Regions from separate parts of the Homo sapiens genome. Here all the other regions are linked to region 1. The links come from fine-mapping of genetic effects on gene expression. A gene starts in region 1. Each other region holds a variant in brackets. All regions are shown on one strand. Distances are between the middles of the regions.

Region 1 (8,027 bases):
TCCAGGTCAGGCCTGCATTTTCCTGGGCTCTCTCCCCGATTCCCCAAAGGGGTAGGATACCTTCATATGATCTCCAGCCCTGCACGCAATCCTGCAGAAAAGATTTAACCAATTCTTTGCCATCCTGTTTCAAGAACACACGCTGCATACCTGCCCTTTTTTCTAACATTGTTCTAACATTGTTCATTCCTTCTAACATTCCCTTCCGCTTTGAGGTTGATACGAAGATCTATGATTTAACGTTTGTCAAATACTCTAGGCTTCTCAGATGAAAGACAACATTAAAGTTCAAATAACCAGTGGCTGGCATTACACTAGAAGTGTTGCAGTTTACTGTTTATATTTGGGCTTCAAAAAGGGAAATCAAGGCTGCAAAGATACAGCAGCTAGCTTTTGTACTCTAGTTAAAGGCAGACAGAGTTATCCTAACATTCTTTAATCAACTAGATTTCAACATTAGAAATACAAGGATCCTTATATAAAACACTGGACCATCATTACAGTAAGAAGTATACAAGGAAAAGGATCTTGTTCTCTGCCCTTCTAATCTCTCAGTGGCTTTCCCTCCTCAAACTTCTCTACTGCCTGGTCCCCCACCTCTCAATTTCCTCTTGTAGGAGGAGCCACATGGCAGCTGCCAGCCAACATGTTTATTTTGAGCCAATAGACTGAAAAAAAAAAAAAAGTCAAAAACAAAGCTTTATGTGTATGTTGACACACATGTGAATTCAGGCTGCTGAAAAAAATCACACACAAAGAGCACATTCATGGCCACATACAAGTCCTTGAACATATAAATAGCCATCCTTGACCTATTCTGTGTGAGGTACTGTTATACAGCATGACACTGAATTCTCCATACATATCCTGAGAGGCCAAATGTTACCAGATCCATTTTGCAGATGAAGAAACTGAGGCTCAGAAGGGCTATGACGTCCATCCAACATCACACAGCTAAAAAATGGCAGCGCTAGAATTCCAACCTAGCTATATTTCAAACTCCCAAACCTGGACCGCCTGCTCCAGCACACTGACAGCCAGGAAAAGCTACAGAATTTGCCACACATACCCCTTGGACCACTCAATAAGCCCTCCATGGGATGCATACAGAGGAAGCGTAAATTAAATCAATTTAAATCCGTAAGGGGAGATCCAAAAGCGTATTTTAACATTAACTTGAACCTCCTCCCTACCAAAGCTTTCGTGTTTGTTTTCCCTCATTCCTTAATTGGCTAATTAAGTATTTCATCTTGTCTTTCTCATGCCTTATCTCTAACAAAGCTCACAGCACTGTTCTCAGGCTTAAAATGAATTTTTTAAAAACACAGCATTTGGTGACTAAGTAATGAAGCTCAAATGCAAGAATTTGATGAAATCCTTGTTCAAAAATGACAAGAATATGGAACCCAGGGGGGCTATAATATGTAATCAAAGGGTTGATGTTTGCTTCCCCGGAGCAAATTTAAACCTCTAATAAGGAAGGAAGGCACTGGAAAATAAAAAATCCTCATAGTTCTTGACACTTAGCCCATCCGTTCAGGGCAAATAAGAATTATTCTAAAAATTCTGATTTTTCTCTGAATTCCTTATGGTGCTTCCCTATTAAAAGCCTAACTGTCCTTTCTATTACAGCTACCAGCATGACACAGTATGCACAAATCTGAATAACTCAAGTGTTAATAATAATTACATGTTTAAGCCAATGATGGAAACTGGGCAAATGTCTGGGATTAGTGGGAGTGGGCTTCTCTTCAGCCATTTCTCTCATGCAGGTCCCTACACCTTCAGGAAAACTTCTGTGAAGGGGCTGTTCCTGAGATAAGAAAAGATGCTGGTAGAGGGGCTTGGATAAACACCCAAAGTTGTAGGAAGTCAGTGTGTTCTTCCCACTCTGATGTACTGGCCTGAGGTCACCAAAAGCTGGATGTCTGCCACCTCAGCCAGGACTCAGCCACTATGAACAATACTACAACACCACTTCAGTCCAGTGAAGAGACACCCTTGAAAGGCAAACCACGTACAGAATGCTACTGCATTGTAAGAAACTTTTCTAGGCAGGATTTGCTGAATCCTGGGCCATTAGTCTACAAAAATGTGCAAGATAGTGTTTTCTATTTTCATAAAGTTTCAGAGAAAAGAACGACTTTAGCACAACTGTGCTAAAGCAATAGTAATGACTTAAAAGCAGAGAAAAGTATAACAAACTTAGTGACATACAGATGAACGAATTTTGCACCTCATGGCCACCCATTCAGACTGGGCAAAAAGGGCATCATGCCATTCAGCTCCCGCTCATTAAGGCTGTCATTTCTATGGCACAAGCTTCAACCTCATCACCAAACAATTAGCTAACTTTATAATACAAGGTCCGTAATGCTGCGGTATTACCACACCTACGGCTGTCAAACAGCCTTTTTAAAAAAGGAATCATTGCTTGAATGTGGGGGACAAAAAAGAAGAATCAATACCATTTTAATGAAACCGAGCATGGGCCAATTAAAATGTAGATGATCATACAACAGCTGCTTGTGGTAAAACAGCAGCAGGCATGGAGGTGTATCCAATTAGGGAGGCCTTGGCTCCTCGGTAAGCTACTTGTGGTTCCCATAAGTGGCTAACGTGCTTCTAGATTTATTTCTGATATTGGGGGTGGAGAGAATGCTATCCCAGCAACACTGCACCAACATGGCCATAAATGCCCCTCAGGCCCCCAGATGGCTAGGGAAACTTTCTGTCCTTCTTGTGTTCACTCTGCACGAGCTGTTTCCTCTGCCTGGAATACACCCTCCAGAGGAGCACAACCTCTATCCTCTAAGTGTAGTGCACCCTTCACCAGGACCAAGCTCGCCTCAGACTCTCACAGAACCCCTCTTCCATGTATTATCATTCTTCACCGGCCTTCAAGTTTCCTCCACTAGGCTGCAGACTCCTGCCCTGTGATCTCATTTAGCATCTTTCTATCCTGTTCCTAGCAGAGTAGAAGCTGGGTTTGTTGGATGAATGAGTAAACTAATCCATTTCAAGAAGTTAACACATTGGTGGAAACTCTGTAACTGCCCGCACCTGCAGTCTAGAGATTCCTCACCTTCACAAAGAACCTGCGACAGCCAGTCCCTAGACTTAAGCGGAAACCCCACAATTTCTGAAATTGTAGGTGGGGATGAGAAGGTTGGAGAACAAGAACCCAAGGAAGTGAGAGGGAAAGGGAGATAGGGGCAGCGTTACCTCACTGCTCTCTCCAAACGAAAAGGTGTAAACCCCATTTACAAGTATTCAAACCTGAGATCTGGGGGTCACGTGGGGAAGGAGAGGCTGTTAATACCTACAACTTTGGAAGTTTGAGGTGAAGACCTGATCTGAAATTGTTTGGCCACAGCTTTTTTTCTACGAGCCAGCTCGACCACCCAAGTAGGAGCCTCGACGCCCAGGAGTTCGGTGGCACCACTGGGGCCTAGTGAGAGGGCAGGAAAACTCCGCTCCCCTCAAGATTCCTTCCCGGTGGTGGTGGGGTGTGATTGGGAGCGTCGGGCAGCTGCATCCCCCTACCGCTGCAGCGACCGCGACGTCGTTCGTCTTTCATCCTCTAGCCCCCAAGGTCTAGGTATCTCTAGTTGCCCTTCCGAGGCCCTCTCTCGTTCCCAAAACGCAGAAGGGAATGGAGAGAGGGGACCAGGGTGTGGGTTTAACCACAAACTCCCCAGACTGCGCTCACCTTCCAGCTCGCTCCCGGGACCAGCTTTGCGCCTCACCGCGGGCAGCTCCCACCGCGAGATAACACCCCTGCGGCCCGGCCACCCCGCGCCCCAGGCTGCCCTGCCAGGCGTCCCGGGGCGCCAATCGCAAGTTGGCGTTGCCAGCGTCTGCCCAAGTCATCTGCAGGGCGCCCGGAGCGCCAAGGCGGCCTCCAACCTCGGGCCCAACTCCCGGCTTGGACGGGGCTTACCTGCTTACATGGCCCCCGTGGCGCCCCGGAGTCCCGCGCGGAAAGGCTGTCCTTCGCGGCGGCGGAGCCGATTCCCCACGGAATTGATTCCAGTGACTGGCGGAGGAGGGGCGAAGGGAAGGAGCCGCAGGAGGCGAAAGGGGAGGGAGGTTTCCGCCGCGATCCCGGCGCGAGAGTCCGAGCAGAGGCGCACCGGGGGAGAAAAGGAGAAAAACCTAAGCACGGGGCTGTCCCGCCCGAGGAGGCCGGGGAGGATGGCTCAGCTGGGAGGGGAAGGAGCGCCAGTGGCCACTTGATGTCTGTCTAGGGCTCCCCGAGGACCTGAGCCAGGAGAGCAGGCGGCTGAGCCCGGAGAAGCACAGCAACCTGCCCCCGAGTCTGCGCCCGCTGCGCTCACTCCGCCGAGAAAAAGTTGGAAAGAACTTTGAGGGGCCGGGAGAGCCAGAGCGGCAGGAAATGCGAGCGGCCGGGAGAGGAGGGAGGAAGGGGCCGTGCGAGTGGGAGGGGACGGAGCAGGCGCCGGCGGCCACGGCTCCCCCACCCCAGAGCCGGGCTCCGCGGCCCTGGGGGCCGGGAGGCGGAGGGAGCGCTGGGCGCGCGGCCGGGGGCGGGGAGGAATGCGGCCCGGGAGGGCGCGCGCCGGGGGCGCCGCGGGCGCGCGCTGAAACGTGGAGCCCCAGCTCCCGAGCTCCCGAGCTGGAGGCGCGCCGTCCTTGGGGACGTCACAGCGCTGGAATCCGAGGAATGCCGGGCTGCAGGAGCTCCTTCTGCAGGCCCGGAGAAGTCGCACACTTTTAATGGGGTAGTTTTGGAAAATGTTTTAAAAGGTGGGGGCCGAGGACGGAGGACCGGATGAAACTCCCTGGAGTAAGAGACGTGGAAGTGGAGAGAGCAAGGCGACCGCAGCCACCCCAACCCTGGGCTGCTCCCGCCGTTGGGGAGAAAGAGGCAAGGCAAGGAAGAGCCCACCTAGACTTCCGAGGACCGCAGAGACGGGGCGGCGGCAGGAACTTGCTCACCCCGACCTACATTCAGAATAGTCCACCTTATATTGGGGAACCCTCCAAGCAGGACGTTTCATGCAGCCACCCCACAGGGGAAAACAGACCAGGAGAAAGTAAGGTGGCCTCACCAAGTAGGCAATCTCAGAGATCTCTCCCTAGAATCTCTGGGTACTGGACCCGGTGTCTTAGCCTTCTCTCCCTGCCCCCTCCCGCCCCGTAGGAATGATAAAAAGCAGCCTGTGTGCTGAGAGTTGGAAAATGTCGTTTTCCCGGTTTGTTCCATGCCACAGAATCGCCCCACCCTGCCTGGGTAGGCACTGGGAGGGAACTTCCTTAGCACTTTCGGAGGTGGAGTTAATGAGACGCAGCTGGTATGATGGAAAAAGCTCGGAGCCAGGCGACTGAACCTGGGTTTTAGGCCCTGCCCGATTGGATAACTGAGGAGTATCCCAGCCCCTGAGATCCTAGGTTTCTGTAGCTGCAAAATTAAATAATTTGTCTAGATTTCTGTGGTCCTTTGCATTGCTACAAACATGTCTTGGGATTTATCTCGGTAAGATTCCAGTCCTTTGTTGAAAAGGGACCTTGAAGTCGTTGGCACACAATGTATTGTCCCAAATCACTTCAGTGTCCGGCAACTCATGCAAAAATTCCTGGCCTCTTGGGGAAGAGAATTGGAAACCAAAAAGCGCGGTGGCTCACACCTGTAATCCCAGCACTTTGGGAAGCCAAAGCTGGGGGATTGGCTGAGCTCAGAAGTTCGACACCAGCCCGGGCAACACGGTGAAACCCCGTCTCTACTAAAATTCAAAAAATGTTTCGGGGGTGGCGGCGTGCGCCTGTAGTCCCAGCTACTCTGGGGCTGAGGCAGGTTAATTGCTTGAACTTGGGAGGCGGAGGTTGCAGTGAGCCGAGATCGCGCCACTGCACTCCAGCCTGGGCTACACGGCCAGACTCCTCTCAAAAAAATAAAATAAAATAAAATAAAATAAAATAAATAAATCCGTAGTGACTCTGATTTTCTTCGAGCATCTGCCAATCTCTAGAACTGTAAATTAGAGAAAACGCCGAGTGCAATGCAAAAGTGATGGAAAGAAAAGGTTGAAGGGAAATCAACTTTCTCACATTTTAAAGGAAATAGCTGTACAGACGTGCTGGGTTTCCAAAGAAAACATTAGGCAGTGCCTGACTGTGTTCCAGAAAGTGTGGAAAGCACTCCCCCATTCCTAGATGAGGAAAGTGAGGCATGAAGAAATTACCTGTCTCACTGAGGGTCATACAACTAGGAAGATATGATCAGGGCCCTAGTCTGTCAGGCCTAAAGTGCATGCTCTTCATCTCTTTGAAATTGGACCCAAACAGGATTAGGATTAAAGATAAGAAAATGCCTTCAGGATCTCAATGTAAAACTCTGGCCTTTGCTCTTTCCTGGGAGATGGGAGACCTCTTGCTTGGTGTCTTTTCTAGTGAAAAGACACTAGGAAATATATTGTGTTGCTCTAACATCACTGTGCTACCAAACTGAGCACAGCACCCTGAGGCTGTTGTGGCATAAAAGAAGCAGCAAAGGACTTGTTGTCCTTCTTGGGCAGACACAAGGGTTCCGGTTCTGCCTCTGACCAGCCTTGGGACCCTGATCAAGGCACTTCACCTCTAGGCCTGAATTTATTTTCTAAGTAGAGTGTGGCAAAGAGGGCAGAGCTTGGTTGGAATAGTTCATCTCTGAGGTCTTTCCCAGGACTAAACTTCCATCAAAGTACTCTTCTCCAGATAGATGGCATGCCTGTGGAGGAAGCTAAGCAATAAAGCCAGTGGATAAAGCCAGTGTCTGGGGACAGGACTGTTTTCACACCGCCTTCAGATGAAAATGAATGTTGAGACTCCAATGAATGTGGCTGAGTGTTCAATGATAAGTAAAGCTAAGATTTAGCACTAACCCTGTGGACACATTTTAAAAATTTAGATAATTTTACTTACAGGAAGACAGTCTGGGCAACATGGCGAAACCCCAACTCTACACAAAATACAAAAATTAGTCAGGTATGGTAGCTCGAGGCTTGTAGTCCCAGCTACTAGAGAGGCTGAGGTGGGAGGATTGCATGAGCCTGAGAGACCGAGGCTGCAATGAGCTGAGATCACACCACTGCACTCCAGCCTGGGTGACAGAGTGAGATCCTCTCTTGAAAAAGAAAAAAAATATGCGTTATTAACTTAAAAGCCTATAGAGTGTATCTGACTAGCCATATTTCTTTTTCTTTAGAATAGATCACAGAAAGGCAATACAAATAAGAATATTTTCTAAGGCCGGGCGCGGTGGCTCACACCTATAATCCCAGCACTTTGGGAGGCCGAGGCGGGTGGATCACGAGGTCAGGAGATCGAGACCACAGTGAAACCCCTTCTCTACTAAAAATACAAAATTAGCCAGGCGTGGTGGTGGGCGCCTGCAGTCCCATCTACTTGGGAGGCTGAGGCAGGAGAATGGCGTGAACCCAGGAGGTGGAGCTTGCAGTGACCCGAGATCGCGCCATGGCACTCCAGCCTGGGCGACAGAGCAAGGCTTCGTCTCAAAAAAAAAAAAAAAGAATATTTTCTAAATAGAAAGTACAGCTTGAAGTGACAAAAACCTTTCATTCTCAGGATAAATATATAAAAGCTAGTTTCAAGCTTCTTTCAAAAAGAAAAAAGAAACCCATTTCCTAAATCTTTGTCACACTCAAGTCTCCTTATACTACATCAGGGTGAAAAGGAATTCGACTCATGGAATAGGTCCTGAACACATCACTACATGTTTGCTTTAAAGCTTTGCAATTGTAAGAACTTATCAATATTACATTTCTCAAAGCAATTACCAGATTCTTATAAGCCCAATTCAAACTACAAATACAAAGAAGAATCCCGTGGGCTTCCACAATTCCTCCCAGCCCCAATGTGTTCCTCTCATTAATGCATTCATTTTACACCTTCAAAGATGCTGAAGCCACTGAAAGCAGAACAAGTTCCCCAAATCAAAGCCAACTGGAAAGTAAGCCTGCTTTGTTAAGAAAACTCTGATGATCTCTAGGGGCCTTTTACAAATT
Region 2 (8,027 bases), 190 kb before region 1:
ATAATTCACAAAAGTTATTCCAAAGGGGAAAAAAATAAATTATCTCATATAAAATAATACATGGTATGTGTGAATAATCTTGGCTACTGTCTTCAGAGAGCCTGTTTGCTGCCAGCCACCTGCACCCCTGTGGGGGGAGCAGATGTTGTCTGGAGGTGACTCTCCTCCAGCGCGATGGAGCTGGGTCCCTCCTCCAGGAGCTGGATTGGGGTGATTAAATGAGTCTGGAGTTTTGGAGGAACTGGATGAGGACTTGGTAGACAAACTTGTACTGAGCGATAGTCTGGATCATGAACATCCTCTGCTCCCTGAGGAGCCTCAGCATCATGGGCACTTCCACCTTCTGCAAGAAAAGAGAGAAAGCACAAGGTCCTGAGACAGGAGGCTTCCCTTTGAGCATTCCTCATTCCCTCATTCAGGAAGCACTCACCCACTGCCCATGTCCAGGTACAAGAGAAGGCAAGGGACTCTGCCCTGGCTGGGTTTTATGCATCAAACAGTTTATATCAGCAACTGGAGAACCTGGTCATCATGTGTCACTGGTGGGATATTTTATTTTTATTTAATTTCAAATTTTCTGAGAGGGTCTTGCTGTGTCACCCAGGCTGGAGTACAGTGGCACAGTCATAGTTCACTGCAGCCTTCAACTCCTGGGCTCAAGCAGTCCTCCTACCTGAGTCTCCCAAAGTGCTGGGGTTACAGGCGTGGGCCACCACACCTGTCCTGGTGTATTATTTTGAATACAGACTAGTCTGCTGGTTAAAACATAAAGGCTGGAGTTAGACCTGAATGGTACTCTCAACTCCCCTGCAACCCAATGACAGGATTTAAGACCTCTCAGGGTCTTAGTTTCCTCATCTGTAAAATCAGGATAATAATGCTTTCCTCTAACAGCAGTGTGGCCTTGCCCTAGTTAGTTACATTTCCTCAGCAATAACATGGGGTATGAAATAACATTTGCCTCATGGGATCAAATGATGAAACACATATCAAGCATTTAGTGCACAGTGAGTGCTTAATAAATATTACTCATTATTCCTTTTTTTTTTTTTGAGACAGAGTTTCACTCTTGTTGCCCAGGCTGGAGTGTAGTGGTGTGATCTCGGCTCACTGCAACCTCTGCCTCCCAGGTTCAAGAAATACTCCTGCCTCAGCCTCCGGAGTAGCTGGGATTACAGGTGCGCACCACCACGCCCGGCTAATTTTTTGTATTTTTAGTAGAGACAGGGTTTCGTCCTGTTGGCCAGGGTGGTCTTGAACTCCTGACCTCTGGTGATCCGCCCACTTAGGCCTCCCAAAGTGCTGGGATTACAGGCGTGAGCCACCCCGCCTGACCTCATTATTCCTTTATTAACATTAATAAATGTTATTAATGCAATTATAATCTCACAGGACTGTGGTCATGATCAAGTGAGATAATTTAAGTGTAAACCTTTAAAATGTCAAAGCGCCATCTCTGAACACCAGTCCTACTTGGAGTAAAAGCCTTCAACTGAGAACACTTTTTTTCTTTTTTTTTTTTTTGAGACGGAGTCTCACTCTGTCTCCCAGGCTGGAGTGCAGTGGCTCAATCTCTGCTCACTATAACCTCCGCCTCCCAGGTTCTAGCAATTCTCCTGCCTCAGCCTCCTGAGTAGCTGGGATTACAGGCACGCACCACCATGCCTGGCTAATTTTTTTTTTTTTTTGTATTTTTAGTAGAGACGGGGTTTCAGCATGGTGGTCAGGCTGGTCTCGAACTCCTGACCTCGTGATCCGCCTGCCTCGGCCTCCCAAAAGTGCTGGGATTATAAGCGTGAGCCACTGCGCCTGGCCGAGAACACCTATTTTGAGACAGAGTCTTGCTCTGTAGCCCAGGCTAGAGTGCAGTGGTGCGATCATAACTCATTGCAACATCAACCTCCTAGGCTCAAGCAATCCTCCCACTTCAGCCTCCTGAGTAGCTGGAACTACAGATGCACACCACCACACCCGGCTAACTTTTAAAATTTTGTGTAGAGACGAGGTCTTACTCTGTTGCCCAGGCTGGTCTCAAACTCCTGAGCTCAAGTAATCCTCCAGCCTTGGCCTCTAAAAGTCTTAGCATTATGGGCATGAGCCACTGTGCCTAGCCTTGAGTCTTAAATGAGAACATTTTGAGTATTAAATGAGATTGCCTATGTGTGAATTCTTTGAGAATATATACGATGATATATACTATCATTAATGAAAGGAAATTAATTCAGTGTCATGGGTACTTGAGCAGATCAGAGGCTGTCACAGTGTCCTCTCCCCTCACCTTCACCATGTCCATCCTCCTGGACTAGCCAGGACACATACGGCTGGAGCACCCCTGAGCTGTGGAGGCCATGGTGGCCTCAGCACATTCACTCTGCTCTGGGAGCTCTTAACCCAGGGCAAATGATGGCACCCAGGAAGTTTTCAAGGGCTAAGCAAGTGTTTAAAAGAAAATAATAAAAACTCAGCTGTATGCCTGACTTTGTAACCTTTGAACCTTAAAAAATAATTTAAGCTATTTCCAAGCCGTGTATAGGTATGACATGACACGTGCCATCAGTCACTCTTGTTCAACACCAACTAAGGAATGCATATCACAAACTTGCGACGTTGCCTGGGCTAGAGTGCAGTGGTGCAATCACAGTGGTGCAAAGGGACAAAGTCAAGTCCCTGCCTAATAAGAAAAGAAAAAAAAGGCATGTGAATCTTCGAACTATGAATCAAAATACAGAGCCTAGGTTATAAGCTTCTGACAGTAACAAGTAGGTCTCTGCCTAAATTATATTGCAAAGTGACCAGTATAAGATGTGACCTAGAGCCACCTAATAATGAACTTAATTTCATGTTTGATGAGGATTACTCTGCGGTTGGGCACTGAAGATAAAAGAATAGAGAGAATAAGGCTGTTCCCTCCCCTACCCACCAAAGGTTTTAGCCAGGAGGCAGGATCACACTGGTGTTCAGAGCACAGGCTCTGAGTAAGGCTTCATCTGCTGAATCTCAGCTCTACCACTTCTTGACTGTGGGAAGTGGGCACATTACTTCATTTACTTATGACTCAGTTTCTCTTCTGTTATGTGAGGATACTGATATGGTCTTGGCTCTGTGTCTCCACCCAAATCTCATGTTGACTGGAAATCCCCAGTGTTGGGGGAGGGACCTGGTGGGAGGTGATTGGAACATGGGGGCAGATTTCCCTCTTGCTGTTCTTGTGACAGTGAATTCTCATGAGATCCGGTTGTTTAAAAGTATGTTGCACTTCCCCCTTTGCTCTCTCTCTCTCCTGCTGCCATGTGAAGACGTGCTTAATTCCCCTTTATCCTTCCACCATGATTGTAAGTTTCCTGAGGCCTCCCAGCCATGCTTCCTGTACAGCCTGCAGAATTATGAGTCAACTAAACCTCTTTCCTTCATAAATTACCCAGTCTCAGGTAGTTCTTTATAGCAGTGTGAGAATGGACTAACACAGATACTAACAGGACTTAGCTCACAGTGTCACTGCAAAGGCTACTTGTGTTAATACTATCAGGCTCTTAGAATAGTGCGTATACATGGTAAACACTAGACACAAGTTAGCTGTTACGATATTATTTTCAATGTTGTCAC[C/A]ATCACCACCTCCTCCACCACCACATCCTCCTCCTCCTCCTCTACCATCATCCCCATCTCAATTACCTGTAGGACTGAGCCTAAATGACAGTATATTGTCTGATATGTTCAAGTCTGGGGATATGACAAAGAAAGTTCTCCTGGTCTTCAATGAAAGGGTCCCAGCTGGCTTAAAGATTCATTCACTCCCACAGGCTCTGCTCTTAACTGCCCCCAAGCCAAGGAAGCACAAAGCAGTTGACAATTGCTCAATCTTGTCTAGAAGACATTTTCTCCTCCTCACTTTATGAAGGAGGTATAACTTACTCAGAAAAGCAGCAAGATCAAGACATCTGCCCTTTGGCTACTGAGATCCTGACCTTTTGTAATTAGCTGTAGCTGGAACAGACAGCTACATCCAAGGGACTGAGTGTCCTGCAGACCATAAAACGAGTGCTTTCTGAAAAACTCTATGCACCTTAAAAAGTCTCAGCTAACACTCAGTGACCAAAAGCACTGGGCCACAGGGAGGCTTCCCAGAGCAGCCTGGGACAGCTGTCCCCACTCCCCACTGCACAGCTACCAACCTCATTGTAAGTGTCTGTGTTTCATTGTTTCTGCTCAACTTTTCTGTGTTTAGAATGAGACTGAGAGGGACAAGTCCAGGAAAAAGAAAGGCCATTTCATTGACAGAATTAAAACTGCATGAATTACAGACTAAAATATAAAGTATGCTAAATCCAGAAGCTGTGGAAAGAAGGCAGGGGAGTTTGGACAGGAGAAAAATGGTCCCACAATTTAATATATATTTGTTAAAATCTTTGCTTGAAACACAAAATAAACTAAACATGGTCTACTCTTCTCCTGAAATAGGGGCTTGGATCTTACTAGCCAGGCCTGAACAGTACCAGAACAAAAGGAGAGCATTTCTCCCCGCTAACCATCTACCAATAGCAACCATGGGAAATAGGACAGATAAGACTGGCTATATTTGTGCTAGGGGAAGAGAAGTGAAAAATATGAGTCATCTTGCTATCTTTGAATATCAATGGGAACAGAAGTTCTTTTTGGGTTGACCACGTCCCAGCAAAGAATGTTCTGGCATGCAGTTGGGCACTGAGGAAATCCGCTATGTTTGGACACACCATAGAGCATTTAACCACCCTGAGCCTTCACCAAGTCCACAGGAGGCCACACTGGCCGAATCCCTTACTCCAAACTGTTCCGGATTTGATATGCTTGTCTGTGCTCTGCCAGACCAGTAACATCTGGTGTTCAGTGAGCCCCCATGTCATTGCCTCACTGAGGCTCAGCCTTTGATGGGTCTCCAAAGAGCTCAGAACAGAATAGTCTTTCGTGTCAGACAAGACAGAATGGCTTCTTGAGTTGAAAAGGGGAAGTAGGGAGCGGAGCACAGGGAATGGGGAAAGAAGTGGAGTGGCCAGGCTTACGCCTGTAATCCCATCAACTCAGGAGACCGAGGTGGAAGGACTACTTGAGCCTAGGAGTTTGAGGCCAGCCTGGGCAACATAGCAAAACCCTGTCTCAAAAAAAAGAAAAAAAGAAAAGAAAACAAGGGGGGAATTTGGTGACAAAAGTGATATGAAGGGAAGGAAAGGACGATTAGGTGGGGAAGGTGATGATGAGGCCCTCAAGCCATGCACACACTGATTCTACCTCATCTTATTTTGTCTTCCTAGCAATGGATGGATTGAGACTCAGTGGCAGGTTACTCATTGTTCTAGAGATTTCTAGAGACCTCTAGTAGTGATGGGAATAGAGAGGCAAACAATAAAAAAATCCTATGTGGGGCAAAATGGTAAAAACTCAGAGGGCAATGACATTTCTGTTATGTAGTCTCAACTGATTCCATGATGAACATTTCGCTCAAGCTTTGTTTTATGTTTTTCTAACATTGGGCTACAGTTGGGATTGCCCCTTTTCCAATTTTTAGCAGCACAAACATTCATTCCCATGGACAGACTGGAAGATTCTCAAAATTATCTTTTCATGGGCAGAGAGTTTAATGTCTAAGCTTAGCATTCGTTGTTTTCCTGGATGATTCAATATGACAAACTTCATGTAGCAATATTTAATCTGATTTTCAAACGATTCATGCTATTGAATAAATAGGTATATTATCATATAAATTCCTCCACAGAGTTGCAACAAATCATTCTGTAATTTAAAAACTACCAAACCACAAGTTTCCTTTAATTTTTCAAGCCATATAATTTGAAAACTGAGTAAGAACCAAATCTTACTCAGCGTTTGGAGGCAGAGTGAAGACAGGAAATAACTCTGGACCCAGACACAGACCTTGCTTCTGGCTTCAGTACCACTGCGTAAGAGCCACATGGCACTAGACAAATCATGTAATTATTTCTGGGCCTCAGTTTCCTCTTCTGTGAAATAGGAAGAGTGACATGTTCATGGCTCCTCTACTTGGCTGATATGGCAGGCAAAAGCCCCTTAAAACTTCTAATGTCCCACGTAGCTAGAAGGTAGAACTATTCCTTAGCTTTTGACTGCTGTTTGTCTCACCTACACAAAATTGAAAGTCTCTCAGTGTAACTCCCTAATCCTACAGCAGCAAAGGAATGCCACGCACCTTGTGTGCACAGGCTCAGCAGCACCCCACTTCTGCAGGGAGAAGGGGTAGGGTGACCCGCTGATGCAAAGACGGGGATGTTTGCGTGCTCAAAGTATCTACTCTGCTCCGCTACACCACGCAACAACCAGACTAGACAAGCAAACAACCCCTCAAACCTCACTCTGAAGAATGAAAAACATTTTCCAAGTAGACACATTTTCACCTAGCATTTAGGCCAGAACACATCCTAGAAATGCAAGATGCATCGAAACTATATGGGGTCAAATAACTCACCATGGAAAATTACCCACAATAAAACCAGGCTATCTACAAAATGCCAAAGACTTCTGGAAGTAGATGCCGCCTAAGATCACATTTTCTAAGTGTTTTCTATTGCACACCCTCATTTCTCCTGTTTTATCTGGGTATCTACACGGAGCAGTGGGAGGGCAAAAAGATAAGGAGGGCTGTAAATGTCAGAGTCAAACTAGGAACCAGGAGCCTGGAAAACTCTGGTTGGGAGACAGGAAATTAACCACTGAAAATGCAAGGGTGCAGGCAAAGGTTTGGCCAGGGTGTAGACTTGTCCCCAAGGTGGAGTATCCGGAGAGAAGCCCAGAATGACTCACTTCGTTATGTTCCAAGCAGTAGATCATCAGCTCAGAAAGAATGAGCACGCCGGTCCTTCCCACCCCAGCACTACAGTGGACCACGATGGGCGGGTGCCGGTTCTTGGTGCCTTCCAGCATGCTGTTGGTATGGCGACGGACCGACTGGATCTCCTCCAAGTAGGCTGCAGGACAAAATGCAAATTCTGTCACCAAAGTCCTCCATGGCTTCGCATGTAAGTTGGGGAGGGGGGAGCGGAAGAGAACTGATGGTGAGTGTGTGTGTGTGTGTGTGTGTGTGTGTGTGTGTGTGTGTTTTAAGTGACAATAATTTATAGTTCTTACAAGACACTAATTATTTGGCTGGTACCCAATGTACAGTCCTGGATCCAGACAGGACCAGCTGGGAGTCAATTAGTTCGTGGGAGAATTTGTTCTTTAAATTAAATAGTACTTTTTTAAAAATTAAATTCTGTTTTCCCCTCTGCAAATCCCTAAGTCCCTCAAGCAGATGATTCTAGACATTACTTACAGCAATTCCTGCTATTAACAGACTGGGATCAGAACAACTGCTAAGTCCCCTTGAAACGCCCGCCTGTCAGAGCCAATTTCTGGTGGGGAGAGAGCATCCATCTGCCCCTTCTTCCTTCCCCTCACTGATGAGTGAATGTCAACTGAGGCTTGACTTCATTTTTGGGTTTTAAAGTAGACTTTGGGGAGTCTGCTTTTCAGCATGGATTCCACGGGGCTATGTGAGTAGCCCAAGATGAACCCCCATTCTGGAGGCAACATGTGTGTGAGGTGGAGGGGGTCATGATACCCCCCATGCCTTCTAGCATCTGCTTGGCTCAGCAGGGCTGTGCAGGGAGGGGTGCGTTCATGACTCCAATTAGGCACAAAAGAAAAATCACAGGATTCCAAGCCTTAATGACTTTTTCACAACCATGACAAAAGAGAAAAGTATGGAAATGTAATCCTCAGACACTCCAAAAACCCCCAAAATGTAATTAATAATTTAGATTTTGTAGTAGCTCAGGACAGAAACAGGTTTAAAGGTTCTTGATACTCAGTGAACCTCATCCTAAGGCAAAAGTGTAAACCAGACTATAGGGGAAATGTTTACATTGTTGAAGAGAAAAAAGTAGGTTTGAACCATTCAAATAATTTCAAAGCACCTGTTTACAGACATATATAAATAATCCATACTTTCCTTTATAAACTTATCTAATTACAAAATAATCTGA
Region 3 (8,027 bases), 200 kb before region 1:
TTTGCTTGCCATATCCTCTCACCCCAGAGTGGCTTACAGTATTCTCATTTTTTTGATGTGAAACTAGTTGGGATCTCTGGTAGTTCAACAACTGCTTGTATAGTCATGGGGTTGTCAATGCATTACTGGGAGAAGTTGTTATACTTTTCTGTTACTTACCAAGGATACATAAAGCATCTACCCACATATGAGGGGTTCACCGTGAATGTGCTATGGTGGTTACTGGCTGAAAGTCTGGGACAGGACAGCCACCTTTAAACCTGGACACAAGTTGAGCTGTTATAAAGCTGAAAGGCAAAAGCAAGAATTTAAATTTTCTACAGCAGCCTGGTTGGTGCCTGCCTTTTCCACATCAACAGTTTGGTACCTGAGTAAATGACAGTGAAGGAGGAGTGAGTAGGGGCTTGGAGCTTAACGAGGCTTATTGCTGCATTTGTGAGAAAGACCCATTTCTATGTATTCTTCACTCCACTTGCCTAGTGATCACCCCTTTCAGGTTTCTTCTAACAGTGACAACCTTGGGAATTTCAAACTAAATCTTCAGTATGATAAGGTTATGCAGGACTAAAAACTGGGTAGCAATAAATGGGCTTTAGAAAACAAAGCATGCAGGTTTTCCCAGGCACTTTCAACTAATGCAAACATATACAGTACAGAAAAGAGAAGATGTAACTTTTCTCTGAAAAAAAGGTTTATTGCATATGGAAATCAATAGATATCTTTTACAAAAAAAGGTTAGAATAAAGATCTCACATTTGTAAAGGCACATATGAAACATTTTATAGCAAGCACAAGGGCAGTGAGAACATCAACAAGGTCCAATATCTAAATAAGACTTTATAAAAACAGATAGGAAACAGTGCAAAAAATACTGTCAAAGTCAGTTCTATACACCTCATAACTGTGTATACAACTGGCAAGCATAAGCTTATTTACTGATATAAAATAGCACATAGAATAGCATGCATAGTTTTATTTTAGGCTTTTCATATTATTAAATTGATAGGGAGTCTATACCAAAGTACAGTTGACATGAATAGTGATAAAAATCACTCCCCAGCTTAGGGAATGTCCTATAAACATCTCACCCCTCCCTCTGCTTACAACTACAGTTTGGTAGTAAGGAGACTGGGCTTCCATCTTGCAAGGTGGCAAGCGGCCACCACAGGGGGCGAATGTGCTCTCAGGATCCCAAGTCCCAACCTGGAATGCATTTCTTACGGCAACAACATAAGAGATGGTGATTAAATGTCTGGGTCAGCCCACAAAAGCCAACCAGATCTGGCTATCACAGCCCTCCATTTGGGCTGTGGTGGAGGTCAGTGGGCTTCTATGGGCTGACGCAAGAACCTTAAGAACAAACCGGTTTCTAAGTTGGGGACTTGTCTGTACATCGTTTCAAAATGAAACCTAATAAATGTCATTTGTTTTGAATGATACCAAAATTCACAACATTTTGTGAAACAAAGATCAAGGAAAGCATCAAAATACTGAAGTAGGGAGCACAAGCCTAGTCCAGTGAAACAAACTAGATTAGCTTGTTACTTGATGTAACACAAGTTACATAAGGTTACACATTTATTAGTAATTTGCATATTTAAACCTTTTTTTCCACTGAAGTATCCTCAAGCACATTAATTAGCTATTGAAGGAACAAAGGACATACATAGGAACTCATCTCTGATGAAGAGTAGCTTTATGTCAGAAAGGAGAAGGCTAATGAATTTTTAAGATTCCAAACAGTGGCAAGAAAGTTCAAAGGAAATTGCAGTAAAATTGTACAATGTTCAAGTTGAAAAAAAAAATGGCTCTGAATTACAGCATTCAGTTCTATGCTCAAGGTATGTATTAGCTAACACTGCAGTTGTCAGAGGTGGGAGGCCCCTGAGAAATGCTGAGAATGCCAGGCACCCCAGTTCTGAGAGCCACCCTAGCTAAACTCAAAGCAGCATTCTTGAGATTTTAGCAAAAGGCTCCGCCCCAAGCCACAAAAAGATCCCAATCCAATCTTTTCAGCTTTATCCTCTAAAACCTTTTGTCAGATGAGATAGCATTTGTGTTTCCCAGGAGGAGAAGGTTGGGGAAGAAAATGAAGATAGCTTACATACAGATTTTGGATGACCCGCTAATCTTTCCCCTTCCTAGGTAAGTGAAAACAGATAAAATGTTTCTGGGCAGCCCAAAGGTTTACCACCTGTTTCACTAGAATGGCCAGTCTGTGTAAAGAGGCTATAATGACGAAAGCATTTTCCCTGCAGGGAGAAGCTAGAAACAAATGGGTCTTCCTATACATCAGTCTGCCAAATGCAGCCTCTCTCAATCTATATAAGTTCACCTCGAAATACATATTAAGTACTGCTGTCATCATTGTTTTAAACAGAGCGTCTTTCATTTTTTCTAATAGTGACTGATTCTATCGGCAAGGGAACAAAAGGGTGAGAAAGGGAGCTTCCTGCTTGCTGAGTTTTCTAGCTATTTTCATTCTGGTTATTTTCATCCGCCAGATCTTTTTTTTTTTTTTTTTTTTTTTTTGAGACAAAGTCTCACTCTGTTGCCCAGGCTGGAGTGCAGTGGCATGATCTCGGCTCACTGCAACCTCCACCTCCCGGGTTCAAGCAATTATCCTGCCTCAGCCTCCTGAGTAGCTGGGATTACAGGCATGTGCCACCATGCCTGGCTAATTTTTTTTTTTTTTTTTTTTTTTGTATTTTTAGTAGAGACGGGATTTCACCATGTTGGCCAGGCTGGTCTTGAACGCCTGACCTCAGGTGATCTGCCTGCCTCAGCCTCCCAAAGTGCTGGTTTGATTACAGGTGTGAGCCACCACATCTGGCCATTTGCCAGATCTTATTCTTTGAAACTATACAAGCAATTTTTAAAAAATTAAAATAAGATTTCCTAATTACATATTTCTGAGAGGTTTAAGGCAATGATTCTCTGACGAGGATTAACTCTTACATCTGGGTTGCACTCATAGGGTAGGTAAAGAAAAGAAAAAGTGTACTGTTGAGAGTTGATCCATAAAGCAGATGGGGAAATATGAAAAGGCAGCAGAGGCTGGGTGTAATCCCAGCACTTTGGGAGGCCGAGGGGGGTCATCACGAGGTCAGAGGTTTGAGACCAGTCTGGCCAACATGGCAAAACCCCGTCTCTACTAAAAATATAAAAATTAGCCGGGTGTGGTGGTGCACGCCTATAATCCCAGCTACTTTGGAGGCTGCACTCCAGCCTGCGCAACAGGAG[T/C]GAGACACGATCTCAAAAACTAAAAAAAAAAAAAAAAAGAAAAAGAAAAAAAAAAAGGCAGCAGACCCTAAGTGAACAAGGTGCTCATGGAATGAAGAGGGTGACAGCACACAACAGTCCCACCCGTTCCCCTGAACAAGACAAGGAACACCAAAGTCACTGCATGTACATCCCAGTTTTGTGGCCTGAATAGAAACATGACTTGCTCTAAAGGGGAATGTCCTCTGCAGCACCTCTGAGATCACAGGGGAGAAGAATCAAGAAATCCAAGAGCCGGGGCTGCTAACTCTGGGAGCCACATGGGTAAGCAGAATGCTCTGCTAACAAGCAAGGCAAGGAAAGGCTGCCAGCAGCAGGCGAGGGAAGATGGTGCTTTTGATCAGCAAATCCAGGCAAATATGATAAACCACACATCATAATCCATGACATTCATCAAGCTCTACCTCAACAGTGAAGACAGTTTAAAACTATGAGCTAGGGTGAAATAGACTCCAACACTGCTGCAGGCTTTCCCTAGCATGCCACTTGGTGGTTTCCATCACTCTGACATTACAGAAAGGGAGGCAGGGAGTAGGAGAGGCATTCCAGAGTTCAGAAAATTATTTGTGAAACAGAGAACTTTTGGATAGCAACTTCAGGACTGATGCAAAAATCCTTCCTCTCCCTCTTCCCATTTATAGAAACTTTTGAGCAAGTTTATGGCACTTCTGGGAAAGAATGATCCTGATGGCCCAAAGTGTGGCAGAAGGAGCAATGACTTTCCACACAAATGCTTGTCATATTCAGGCTGCCCAGTAGCTCCAGCCCTCCTGCCTTGTAACTCAATGTCCTTGAATTTATTTTTAAAATGGGAAGGCTAAAAACAAAGCTGCAAACGGTAGGAACTGATGCACATCCTCTTCTTTACTGTACCAAACAACAATCATTTTCCAGTCTATGAAATTGATGGATGCCAGACACTCAATGCTAGGCTCATGGACATTTTAATAGAGAATATCTTAGTTTGGCTTTGAGAAAGAAGATGCAGCTATATTAAGCTGAAAAGATAAGAAAGGTAGTCTACTGAATAAAAATACTTACCTATCTGAGTTTCTAACAGAAACACAAAAGCTGAGAGCAGGCTGGATAAAGGCTGAGTGTTGATGGCGCAAGCTGGTGGTCAAGTTTCACAGGGCCCCCTGAATAACACTGACTTCTGGACAACACATTTGAGGTGGCAGAATTTGATGAGATTTCCCCCACATTTCTCCCTGGCACGTTGCTGTTACTTTCAACAGACGCCATCTGTAAGGTCCTTTGCCCCAAAATGTCTTAGAAGCTTAAGTAAAGACAAGAACTATTTTGCTTCCTTGCTCAGCGTTCAAGAGAAGTATCAAATGCAGTTTAACATCTTACAGCTTTATTTCCACCCTATAGGGCCAACTAGTGTGCCAACCATAAGGCTGTAGGCCATTGGAGAATTTGTGTGGTTTCTACAGAAGACCCAAATTTCTCCATTTGGAAACCATGCTGGATGAGCTGTTGCTCTGCTCATGAAAAGAAATCACTAAATAAGAGCATGATGAGTGTCTCAAAACCATTGGCAATATAATAAAACACAGCAGCAGAATAATTGTTGGTAAAACATGGGAATGCTCAATTCCCTAAAAGGGCTACCCTAAGAGCCCAACAGTAATTATGTGGTGCTTCCGGAAATGTCTTACTCTAGGAGCTCCACAGAGTTATTTCTGACACTGAGTAAGAACACAGGTCTGACTCAATCCCATCCCTTGAATCTGTGCTCCCTGGCACACATCCTAGAATGCCCTGTACCCTCCATCCCCCCAACCCCCGCACCTCAAGGGATTGACAGATCTTCCCCAAACGAAAATCAGTAACGAAATAGTTGTCCTTTACCAAAGGGGGCAATCAAGGACCCTCTGAGAATACCAGAATCCATGGATGTTCAAGTCTTTTATATAAAATAGCACAGTATTTGCATATAACCTATGCACATCTCTTGCATACTTTAAATCATCTCTAGATTATTTACAATACCTAACTCAATGCCTACACATCACTTCATTTGTGTGAATTCAATGTAGTATTCAGCATGTGGCAAATTCAACTTTTGCTTTTTGGAACTTTGTGGGTTTCCCCTCTTCCCCAAATATTTTTCAATCTGTACTTGGTTGAATATAGGGATGTGGAACCCACAGATAGGGGTGGTCAACTGTACTCATCTTCACCATCGAATACACCATTAGATGGGGAAAGGGAGACTAGAAGGCACATTCTGCTTTTTGACAAAGGACACTTTTGGGACCCATACGTCACGTAACAAGTAGGCTGAGGTCAGCTAATACAGACTGTTCATCGGGAAAGGACAGCAGCTAAAAACTCCAGAGTGATATGCCTGATGGCCAATCCGGCTTAAGAGAAGCTGCAGTGCACTATCTACCTCTGCAACTTCCATGTCCCAGGAGATGGCCCATTCACCAAGTGATGCAAGGATCACTATGAGCAGGGCAGCACGTTCGTGAAAAGAGCTGGGCCACCCAGGGTATACCTTTTGTGTTCATTAGCACTGCTCTGGAGAAATGACATCTGGTGTTGGGACCCACAGTGTATCAGGGGGAAGATATAGGTGATCCATGCGAGTACTGTCTATTTGCAGAAAATATGGTCCATTATTGGAAATTTCATATGGGTCAATCTATATTAAGCTGGAAAAATAATCAGCTGGATGAAAAGGCCAGCCTGCTGTACCCACTGGAGTTTATAACTGAAAAGCACAAGCTGAAAGAAAGCAGGATAAAGGTTAAGTAGGTGTAAGCCATGGTCAAGTCCTACAAGGCCCACCCTCAGCAGTCTACAAAGACCCTCTCTTCAGGCTGATGAAAGAGGGGGCCAGAGATGGCCAAGTGACTCTTAGGAAAACAATGACAGTTTAGCTATAATTTTAAAAAGCGGTTCCTCTTCTCAATCTACAAAATTAAAAGTAAAATTCTCTCAATTTAAGCTCCTCAAAAGCTTACGATTCAAAATATTCCACATAGGTATTTTTACCTTCCCTGATCTTATTGTTTAGCTCCGACTGAATATTGCAGCTCATTCATCTTTACTCCTATGTAATCAATGTTTAACATCCTTTTTTCATGCAACTAAATCCTCCTTTACTTCCTATCTGGGGAAAGAAGTGCATACCAATGTCTATGCTATCTGTAAATGCTACCAGATACTCTTGCTAAAAGATGGTATATCCAGTATATCCTTAGAACCCAAGGAAACCTAAGAAACCTCAGCAGGACATTCCTCAGCTAAGCCAGCAGGCTCATCTCAAGGATGAAGACATCAAATTCAGCCCCCATGATTCAGGGACCACAGTAAACAAGGATGAATACCTCGGGTCAATGTATCCAAATGAGTGTGGATGAAAGAAACCAAACAGTTCAACTGGAAAACCTCGAAAACAGCGGCTGGAAAATGTTTGATGGCTTTGTTGTGAGATGGTAACTTTTTTTTCCTCCATTTTACATTTTCTCCCTTCAAATCCAAACTGCAGCAATAGACACTGACAGCTCCAGCTTCAGACTTGATACATCATCAGGAAATCATTCCAAAAGCTCTAACTAGATAACTAATTTAATACACTTTGCTTCAAGGTTTATTCCTTGGCTTGCTTCCCAGATATAAAGCATCTCTGGGCAATTATTATGCAGATGCCACCGAAAGGACTTTAAATGGCTGCTGCTAATTTAACAGGAGATATGTTGGCATTTACTGGAGATGTGAAAAGGAATGCAAAATGTGCTAAAGAACCAAAGGCATTTGTTTTTAAAAGTGAAATATGTGGAACAACTCTTAAATGTTTTCTTTTGGGTTTCAATATAAACTTTGGCTAGAAAGTTGAATATTAAACCTACTTCCTCCCTGCATTTTGTACACTAATGAATATTCCCGTAGCATACGGCAGGGACAGTGGATGAATTTCAGGGAAGCCCATGAGCTCTGACGACCTCAAAGACGCACCAGATCTATATGCTGTCCACATGAGACATATTCTAACAGTGCCCACCTTGGGGCTTAGAGATAAAAGATAAATACTGATGTTGTTCATCACGCAATAAACCAGTAACTGAGACCACTTGCTAAAACATCCCTAACAGCAGAATATCCCAAGGATGGAAAAACCTCCAAGGAAAGGAAACAAGTATCTTTTTGCTTATTGATGAGCTTCTTATAATAAGGGTTATAAGCTCTGTTCACTGAAAATACATGTAATACTAATGGGTTTCTTTCCAGGACATACAACAAAACTCCAGAATCTACAAAGATCAGCAGATTATACTCCTTCACTGAGCCTTCAGACCTTGAAGTAGAAGACACAGGGGAAGCCCTCCATCCCCAGATATTCCGAGTCTAACTAGAGTACAGCCACCACAACACCTGGCCAGGTTGAAACAGAGGATTCCTATTCCGAAGAACTTAATGGGGAATATATACCTGTTGGCATGTGGTGATGGGATGTCACAAAGGCATACTTTTTCTGGTTGATTTGATGTCACTCCATCTTTTTAGCTCACGGGGGACAAAAGCAGCAATGAAGAAAGGCATATGGAACTCTCACAGCAGTCAATTCTAAGAAAAAAAACTGCAATTAAATTTTCCTTTCTCCTAACATCTAGTTTTTCTTGACAACCTTTTTTCCTTTTTTTTTTTTTTTTTTGGAGGCAGGGTCTCTCCGTAGCCCAGCCTGGACTACAGTGGCAAGATCACGGCTCACTGCAGTCTCGAATTCTTAG
Region 4 (8,027 bases), 120 kb before region 1:
TCAAGACCAGCCTGGCCAAGATGGTGAAACCCCATCTCTATGAAAAATACAAAAAGTAGCTGGGTGTGGTGGCGGGCGCCTGTAATCCCAGCTACTCAGGAGGCTGAGGCAGAGAATTGCCTGAACTTGGGAGGTGGAGGTTGCAGTGAGCCGAGATTGCACCACTGCACTCCAGCCTGGGCAACAGAGTGAGACTCTATTAAAAAAAAAAAAAATCAGAGTACCACACAAGTAACCCATATTAAAAGAACGTTTGAAAACACAGACATAACAAACAAACACAAAAGCTGGATGGAATGTTTATCAGAAATAGCAAAATAGGGGCTATCTGCTCAGAAGTCAGCAATATGAGAGATAATTCGGAGATCCTGCTGGATGACTTTAATTTCCATAGCATGGACCTGTGGTGAGACAATTGAGTGGGACACCCCACTTTCTTTCTTTTTTTTTTTTTTAGACAGAGTCTTGCTCTGTTGCCCAGGCTGGAGTGCAGTGATGCAATCTTGGCTCATTGCAACCTCCATCTCCCGGGTTCAAGTGATTCTCCTGCCTCAGCCTCCCGAGTAGCTGGGACTAAAGGTGTGTGCCACCACACCTGGCTAACTTTGTTTTATTATTTTTTATTTTTGGTATTTTTAGTACAGATGCAGTTTTGCCATGTTGGCAAGGCTGGTCTTGAACTCCTGACCTCAGACGATCTCCATGCCTTGGCCTTCCAAAGTGCTGGGATTGCAGGTGTGAGACACCGTGCCCGGCCCGCCCACCCTACATTCCATGTGGCCACTATGATCCATGTTCAGCCTCTCCCCAATCACAGCAATTTAATATTAAAGATTTTATGCATTTGTAATGATAACATGCCTATCCATCTCTGTTTTTTTTTTAGTAGAGGCAGAGGTTATGCCACGTTGGCCAGGCTGGTCTCGAATTCCTGGCCTCAAGTGATCCACCTGCCTCGGCCTCCCAAAGCGCTGGGATTACAGCCATGGGCCACCAGGTCCATCCAGCCCATCAATCTCTATTTAGCACCCTACTAGCCCAGAAGTACCTTGAAGGCGGGAACCACCTCTCTCTATTCTACAATTCACAGACTCAGTAGATGATCCTAGACTTGGTAGTTGCACAAAAAGCATTATGATCATTTACTGACTCAGAGACACCCAGTGGGTAAAAAAGAATGCTTTTCTGGAAGTTAGCCACCCAAATAGGTGGCATAAAACAACACTGGACTCAGCAGAAAGAAAAAAACAAAATCACCTACACTCTAGGTATTACATAATATAAAGCCTTTCCCCAGTCAACAAATTGGAATAACTCATTCCGCCCTCTGTGTTCCCATTGATTTTGTAACTCTAACATGGTACTGATCAAACAACTTAATTATGTGCATCTATTTTGCCTCCTTTGCTGTTTTATAAGACTGCCTTGTTCATGTCTGTATTTCCCCCAACAGACCGCCTTACTATGCATTCACATTAAAGCAGGATATTATTATGGCCACATATTTAAAAGACAGTCAATTACATACTGGCTGAAAGAAACTTTACGTTGTTCCTAGTGTACTATGAAAAAAATAATAAAAACACACCACATGTCTATCAAAAGCTTTGGAAGAACTGAATTCTCCACAATTGGAATTTTTATCAATTTCTCTAGATATTAAGAAATCAGAGCCTTCAAATAGTTATTAACAATGATAGCCCTTTGCATTTGCGCAGTTGTTTTCCAAGAATTGTCATGTATAATATTTCCTGTCATTTAATATTCGCAACAACCCTGCAAGATAGCCACTATCCCATTTATCCACGGGGAAACGGAGGCTCCCAGGGGGTAGGTGACTTGCCAAGTCTTCTGATTTTACAGTCAAGTGCTCTTTTATTACAACATTGTGCCTGTGTAGTAGGTTAGTCTATAGTTTCTACAATCTGGAGCATAAATCGCAAAAAAAAAAAAAAAAAAAAAAAAAAGGAAGGAAGAAGAGAAAAAAACTACAGAAGGCTATAAACAGATCACAACATGAATCCATTGACAACATAATGAATTTTTAATGTTAGAAATGAATAATTTTCTTTTGCAGAATCTTCAAAGCAGCTGAAGACATCAAATGTGGCAACAACTGCCAGAGATAAAATACCAAACCAGCAAACATCTCACTGCCCAAGAATCTAGTATCTTCCTATGCTGTGATTTCTGCCAAAATCATGCTTGATATTTTCAAGCATGGAAATGTCTCTCTACAATTCTTCCTTTCAAACCCTTCTTGAGGCTCTAGGATTAAAGGAGGAGATACTTCATTTGTTAAATGCAATTTAAAAATCATTTTGAACATCCTTTCTTCTTTTAGAGTTTTAGTTTTCTAATTGCCTTAGTTTCTACAAGACCATCTTTTATAACTCTTGACACATAGTAAACTTTAAGTTAGAAACTGTAACTTCCTAGAGAAAAAAAAAAATGATGGCCAAAGTGACAAGTAACTACACATAAATATAGGAAACCTTTTGTTTAGGACATGGGTAGAGGGATGGAGGATTGCCAAGCAGAGAACTATAATTCCCAAATCAGAGAAATTCTTCAATTCTTTCATTTCATGAAAGAAGGCTGCTACAAACACACTCCTCCTTTTCATCCTAGACTTAAGAACTTAAAACTCTCTCATTAGAAACCAGAATAGGAGCGCATTAAATGTCTCTTTAGGAACCAAAAATTCAGGGGCGTGAAGCCCAGGGAAGATGCCAGTGTGGGGCAGTCAGTGGCTGTACGGGGCACACCCTGCGGGCATCAGGCCATATTCAAAGGAGAGCACTCTCCAGAAGAGAAGTACTAAGTAGGTATTCAAATTCTCTCTTTAAAAACAAAAATAAAATAAAAAAATCTCAGCAGGCTTCTCCTAAAAAAAATTATGATTACAGGCCAGCGTGGTGGCTCACGCCTGTAATCCCAGCACTTTGTGGGGCCGAGGCGGGCGGATCACAAGGTCAGGAGATCGAGACCATCCTGGCCAACCTGGTAAAACCCCATCTCTACTAAAAATACAAAAATTAGCCAGGCATGGTGTGCATGCCTATAGTCCCAGCTGCTCGGGAGGCTAAGGCAGGAGAATCACTTGAACCAGGGAGTTGGAGTTTGCAGTGAGCCGAGATCGTGCCACTGCACTCCAGCTTGGCGACAGAGTGAGTCTCCATCTCAAAAAAAAAAAAAAAAAAAAAAAAATTATGATTGCAGAAAATATAAGGCCTCCTATAATTTGTTAATGTTCATGAAACCAGCATAAAATGTATTGAATAGAAATCATTATAAAAGCTGTCAGATTCTATTAAATTAGTATAATGATTTCTTATCCTTTTATAGTACTTTCATTTAAAAAGTAAACCAACTTAGTTTACTGGTAAAATATCAGAAGTATATACATACATATATTCCATTATTTATTCATTCATATTTGACAAAAGCTTAATGAGCACCTACTACATGCCAGGAGTTATTCTAGGCACTAGGGATATCACAGTGAACAAAACAAACCCATTCTCTGCTCTTGCTCATGGAGCTCACAGTCTAGTGGGGAAGACAAGCAAAAATCAAGTAAATAAACAATAGGTCCAATGAGAAAAAAGCAGGCAAGAGACACAGAGAGTAGCAAGGTAGGAGGTGGTCAAGAAAGGTTTCTCTAATAAAAGCGAACTCTGAGCAAAGATCTGAAAAAAAAATGAGGAGCTAGCCATGTGGATATTTGGGGGATGGAGGTTTTCACTTCAAACAAAGGGAATGGCAAGTAGAAAGGCTTTCAGGAGAGCTAGTGTCGTGCATTCATGAATGTTCAAGAGGTCAATGTAGCAAAGAGTGAGCAAGAGGATGAATCGTTGGGCTGACAGAAAAGGCAGGAAGTGGTACAAACCACAAAAGGCCTCGCAGGGCACGGTAAGGGTTCTGACGACAGTAAGATGGGAAACCAGTGGAAGGTACTGAGCAAAGGAGCTGCATAAACAGGCACCCATTT[T/A]ACAAGATGGTACTGGCTGCTTTGTAGACACTGGACTGGGAGGGGCAAGGGTGGAAGCGGAAATGCCAGTCAGAAAAAATGACAGCAGACTGGATTAGAGAGGTTACAGTGGACGCAGAAGGAAGTAGTCAGAATCCAGACATATTCTGAAGGCTGGATGTGGTGTATGGGAGAAAGAATTCAAGGATGACTGCAAGATTTTTGGCCTGAGCAACTAAACTAAACCTTTCAGATAAAGACTTCTCACTTTTTGAAAACTGACAGACAAAACAGATTTGGGGGAAACGGATTTGACTGTCTTCTAAAAATTATAACCACATAATCTTTCATTAAAACCTACATATTCAAAATAGTCATCAAACCACGTCAGTCAAACATTTTATCTAATCATTTTAAAAGAGGAAGTATCTTTGATATAGTAATGGATTCTCCCTTTTCCTTTTTATCATCTTCTTCCTCTTCCTTGTCCCTCAAATCCTCTGCCTATTTTTGTAAAAGAACTATCTTTATAGAACGAAGTCCACACATATTTCCCTCTGATTTCTATTATTTGACTTTTGAGTCCAGATTAAGAATGGCAAAGAGACCATGTAGTAAATGTGCAGTGAATAAGTGGACAGGTGGTAGGAATCAGGAAATGAAACACTGCTCTCACCCAGGGTTTGGCAAAATCTCTGGAAGGCCCAAATAAAGGGTATTTCCTTTCTTCCCACTTGAGCCCTATTATCAAACCACTACACTTTAAAAACATCATCATTTTTTGTAACTTTAAAAATGGTCTTTGCAGTATAACTTGATCAAAAGGCATGCACTAAAAAGATTGGGGAGAAAAAACAAGTTTGTGCAATTAATAATATAGTTACTAAGCCATGCATTTCTGCCATCTGAAGTTTCTTGTTTCTATGAAAACTCACCTAGAGCCACCACCGACTTTACATTAGTAAACTAAGTCCAGTACATTTTCCTCACAGAATGAAATCCCAAATATTGCCTCACTTTTTCATGTTAGCCCGTTCCGTATAATTTTCATGAATTCTTAAAGGCATGACCATGCTTATAGACAGGATGATTTCCTCATAAAAGTCATGATCACAGATTTAAGTCTAAAGAAGAATATGATCATAAGTATATGCAAATAAGAATAAACATAATGGACTCCTTTATAGTTTACCACCCAGAAATAGATATGTTCACATGACCATCTTCTATATGTTTATTATCTTCTCAGTGAAGGAGATCTGTAATAATATTACATGAAAACAAGCTATTATTTAGTATTTAAAATGCATTGTTTCACAATTGTTTGAGAGAATACAATTTGGTAGCTGATTTTGATGATTCAGATAGCTAGAGTACTACATGCTTTTATAATTCTTAATTTGAACTCTGTAAAAACATTGACAGTCATAAACTACTACAAATATTTGAAAAAAGGTGACTTTCAGGAGATCAAGGACTTCATCTGTTTTGTTCAGTGCTGTATTACCAGTAACCAGAAGTTTCCTTGTATATAACAGATGCTCAGTAAATATTTATTTTTTTATCCCCCAAATGGTCTTCAAGTAAACTTATTGAATGCATGCATGAACAATGAATGAAAAATCCTTGATATTTTGCCCAAAATGGGCTGTCCAAGCCAACTAGAATATTAATTATGTAAAATTGTGTTAAGTTACACTACTTACTTCATGCTAAGGATCAATATAGGGTATTTGACAAAATAATTTTAGGAAGTACTAAAGGTAGATACATTTTTTCAAAACAGGGTTTTATGAGAAGAAAGAAAAGGAATTTATTTTATAATGAACATACTGGGAATTCTAGATTAAGAAAATATTTTTCCTTAATGACCTCATCAGATTAAAATTCTAAAGAAGAAATTGCATGACTTAGTTTCAAGATACAGAAGGAGATTTCATCCTGTGAACGTGTGACCCAACAGTAATAGGGAAACCTTGAACTTTAAGAAATTCTTTAGCTGAAATATAAATCCAGGGCTAACTGTGCTACGATTATTTGCTTCCTACCACATTCTAGGTATCCTTGAGGACTTTGCATTGCAATTTTCCTCCCCTCTTACATAATTTCCTTGGCTCGGAATGTTCTCCCTTCACACTTTCCGCTCATCCATCAGTGAGCCCTTGATACTGATGGGAGCTACCGCTTTAGGTATTTGGGAGAGATAACAGGCTTATAGCCCCTGGTCCAGGCTGTTTTCCTGCCTAACAATGCTGACTCACCAAAATCCAATGTCTTCTTCAAAGCCCCAATTCCAGGGACATCTCTTGTCATGGTTAATTTTATGTGTCAATTTGGCTAGGCCACGATATCCATATATTTGGTCATTTTTCTAGATGCTTCTGTGAAGGTATTTTTTGATGAGATTAACACATTTAAATCAGTAGACTTTGAGTAAAGCAGAATGCTTGTCACAATATGAATGGGTCTCGTCCAATCAGTTGAAGGTCTTACAGAGAAAAGATGGACCACGCAGAAGGAAGAATTTGTGTTTGGACTTGAACTTCAATCTTCCCTGGGTCTCCAGCCTGCTGGCCTGCCCTGCAGATTTTGCATTTGTCAAGTCTCTCCATTTATGTGAGCCAATTCCTTAAAATAAGTTTCTCTCCCTATTTACATATACATCTCATTAGTTCTGTTTCTCTGGAGATCACTGAATAATGCCCGTCTCCAAAGCTCCTCCTTATCATTCCACCCATGAAAGGTACCTTCAGCTGGCATCCAACACATACTAATATGTTGCTCAAATATTTTTATGTGACCATCTAATCTACCCAAATAGATTGAAAACCCCATTCAGGACAGGACTGACATCTTGTGCCACTCTATATCTTGCAGAATACCTTATACTTTGAAAATAATTAATGTGTTGAATGAATGCCCAGAGGTGAGTCTGGAAGGCAAAGGAGGCTTCTAAGGCAAGAAGGAAAGAGGAAAAGGGAGATACTTCAAGTACTGCAAAGAGCAGAGGAAGAAGTGAGAAACCCAGGGTGTCCAGAGACATTGAACGGCACAGACAAGTAAAATAGGGCTATGTAAGGAAGCAGAAGACAAAAAGGAAGACAGAGGCTTGCCATGCTTCAAATGCCTCTGGATGTCTGTCTTTATCTTCTAAGCAATGGTAAGACATTATGTATTTTTGACAAAGGAAGGAAAATGATGAAAGCAATCCTTTAGAAGGATGCTTTAGAGTTGGTATGTACACCACATTATATAAATGGGTGGTACAGATACAAATTGGGAGGTCAAATAATAATGATGATAGTGTTAGGTACTACAAAGTGTGCTTTTCTGTTTATTAACCAGTATAATCTTCACAAGAGCTTCTGTTCATGGAGAAACTGAGTCTTAAGAAGGATAAATAACTCACCTGAACATACAAAGAGTGAATGGCAGAGCAGAATTCAAATCCAAGTCTGTCTGACTGTAAAGCCTGTGCTCTTTACCATTTCGTTATATTTAAGGCTGGAGGTAAGAAGACATAAATTGGGGGCACAGCGGACTAGAATGGATTTAACTGGAAAGGTACGGCACATAGTGGTAAATGTGTGGATTCTGGAGCTACACTGTGTAGGCTTGGATCACAGCTCTGTCATGTACTCAAACTGTGCGGGCAAGTTACTCAACCTCTCTGTGCCTTAGTTTCCTATTCTGTGAAATCAGAATAATAGTACTAACTCAAAAAGTTGTTACAAGGGCTAAATGGGTTAATATGGATGAAGAGCTTAGAATTGTGCTTGGCCATAAACACTCATGAAATGTCAGGAGTCATCATTGTTAATATTAAGAAAGATCAGCCAAGCGCAGTGGCTCACGCCTATAATCCTAGCACTTTGGGAGGCCAAGGCAGAAGGATTGCTTGAGCCCAGGAGTTCAAGACCAACCTGAGCAATACAGTGAGATCTTGTATCTACAAAAAAGTTTTTAAAAAATTAGCCAGGCATGGTGGCACATGCCTGTAGTCCCAGCTACACCCAGGCTGAGGTAGGAGGATCTCCTGGGCCAGGAACTATGG

Alleles and levels. Positions count from the first base shown, and alleles are read on the strand shown. Sizes are in standard deviations (SD) of each study's normalised expression. Not every link is listed here.
As copies of A replace T in region 4, the expression in prefrontal cortex of the gene that starts at base 4,363 in region 1 goes down (large effect, 0.77 SD a copy in GTEx).

Evidence for each region. PIP is the estimated chance that this variant, and not a neighbour inherited with it, causes the effect.
Region 2: its variant is the best candidate, but not a certain one, in a credible set for the expression of PTPN14 in fibroblasts (GTEx, PIP 0.64).
Region 3: its variant is the best candidate, but not a certain one, in a credible set for the expression of PTPN14 in tibial artery (GTEx, PIP 0.76).
Region 4: its variant is the best candidate, but not a certain one, in a credible set for the expression of PTPN14 in prefrontal cortex (GTEx, PIP 0.60).

What each region holds. Positions count from the first base shown.
Region 1 is chr1:214,547,240-214,555,266 of GRCh38, forward strand. It overlaps PTPN14 (protein tyrosine phosphatase non-receptor type 14), which reads right to left and starts at 4,363. Exons shown (of 19, transcript NM_005401.5): 1 at 3,944-4,363. RefSeq lists enhancers at 3,026-3,847, 3,848-4,668, 4,669-5,489.
Region 2 is chr1:214,357,708-214,365,734 of GRCh38, forward strand. It overlaps PTPN14 (protein tyrosine phosphatase non-receptor type 14), which reads right to left. Exons shown (of 19, transcript NM_005401.5): 18 at 6,805-6,968; 19 at 1-343. The coding sequence ends at 215. Among named protein-coding and RNA genes, the nearest start is that of SMYD2, 81 kb to the left of the region's middle. The variant C/A (reference allele first, on the strand shown) is at 3,604.
Region 3 is chr1:214,348,027-214,356,053 of GRCh38, forward strand. PTPN14 (protein tyrosine phosphatase non-receptor type 14) reads right to left here. Exons shown (of 19, transcript NM_005401.5): 19 at 674-8,027. Among named protein-coding and RNA genes, the nearest start is that of SMYD2, 71 kb to the left of the region's middle. The variant T/C (reference allele first, on the strand shown) is at 3,244.
Region 4 is chr1:214,424,092-214,432,118 of GRCh38, forward strand. All of the region lies in intron 3 of PTPN14 (protein tyrosine phosphatase non-receptor type 14), which reads right to left. Among named protein-coding and RNA genes, the nearest start is that of PTPN14, 120 kb to the right of the region's middle. RefSeq lists an enhancer at 3,789-3,838. The variant T/A (reference allele first, on the strand shown) is at 3,995.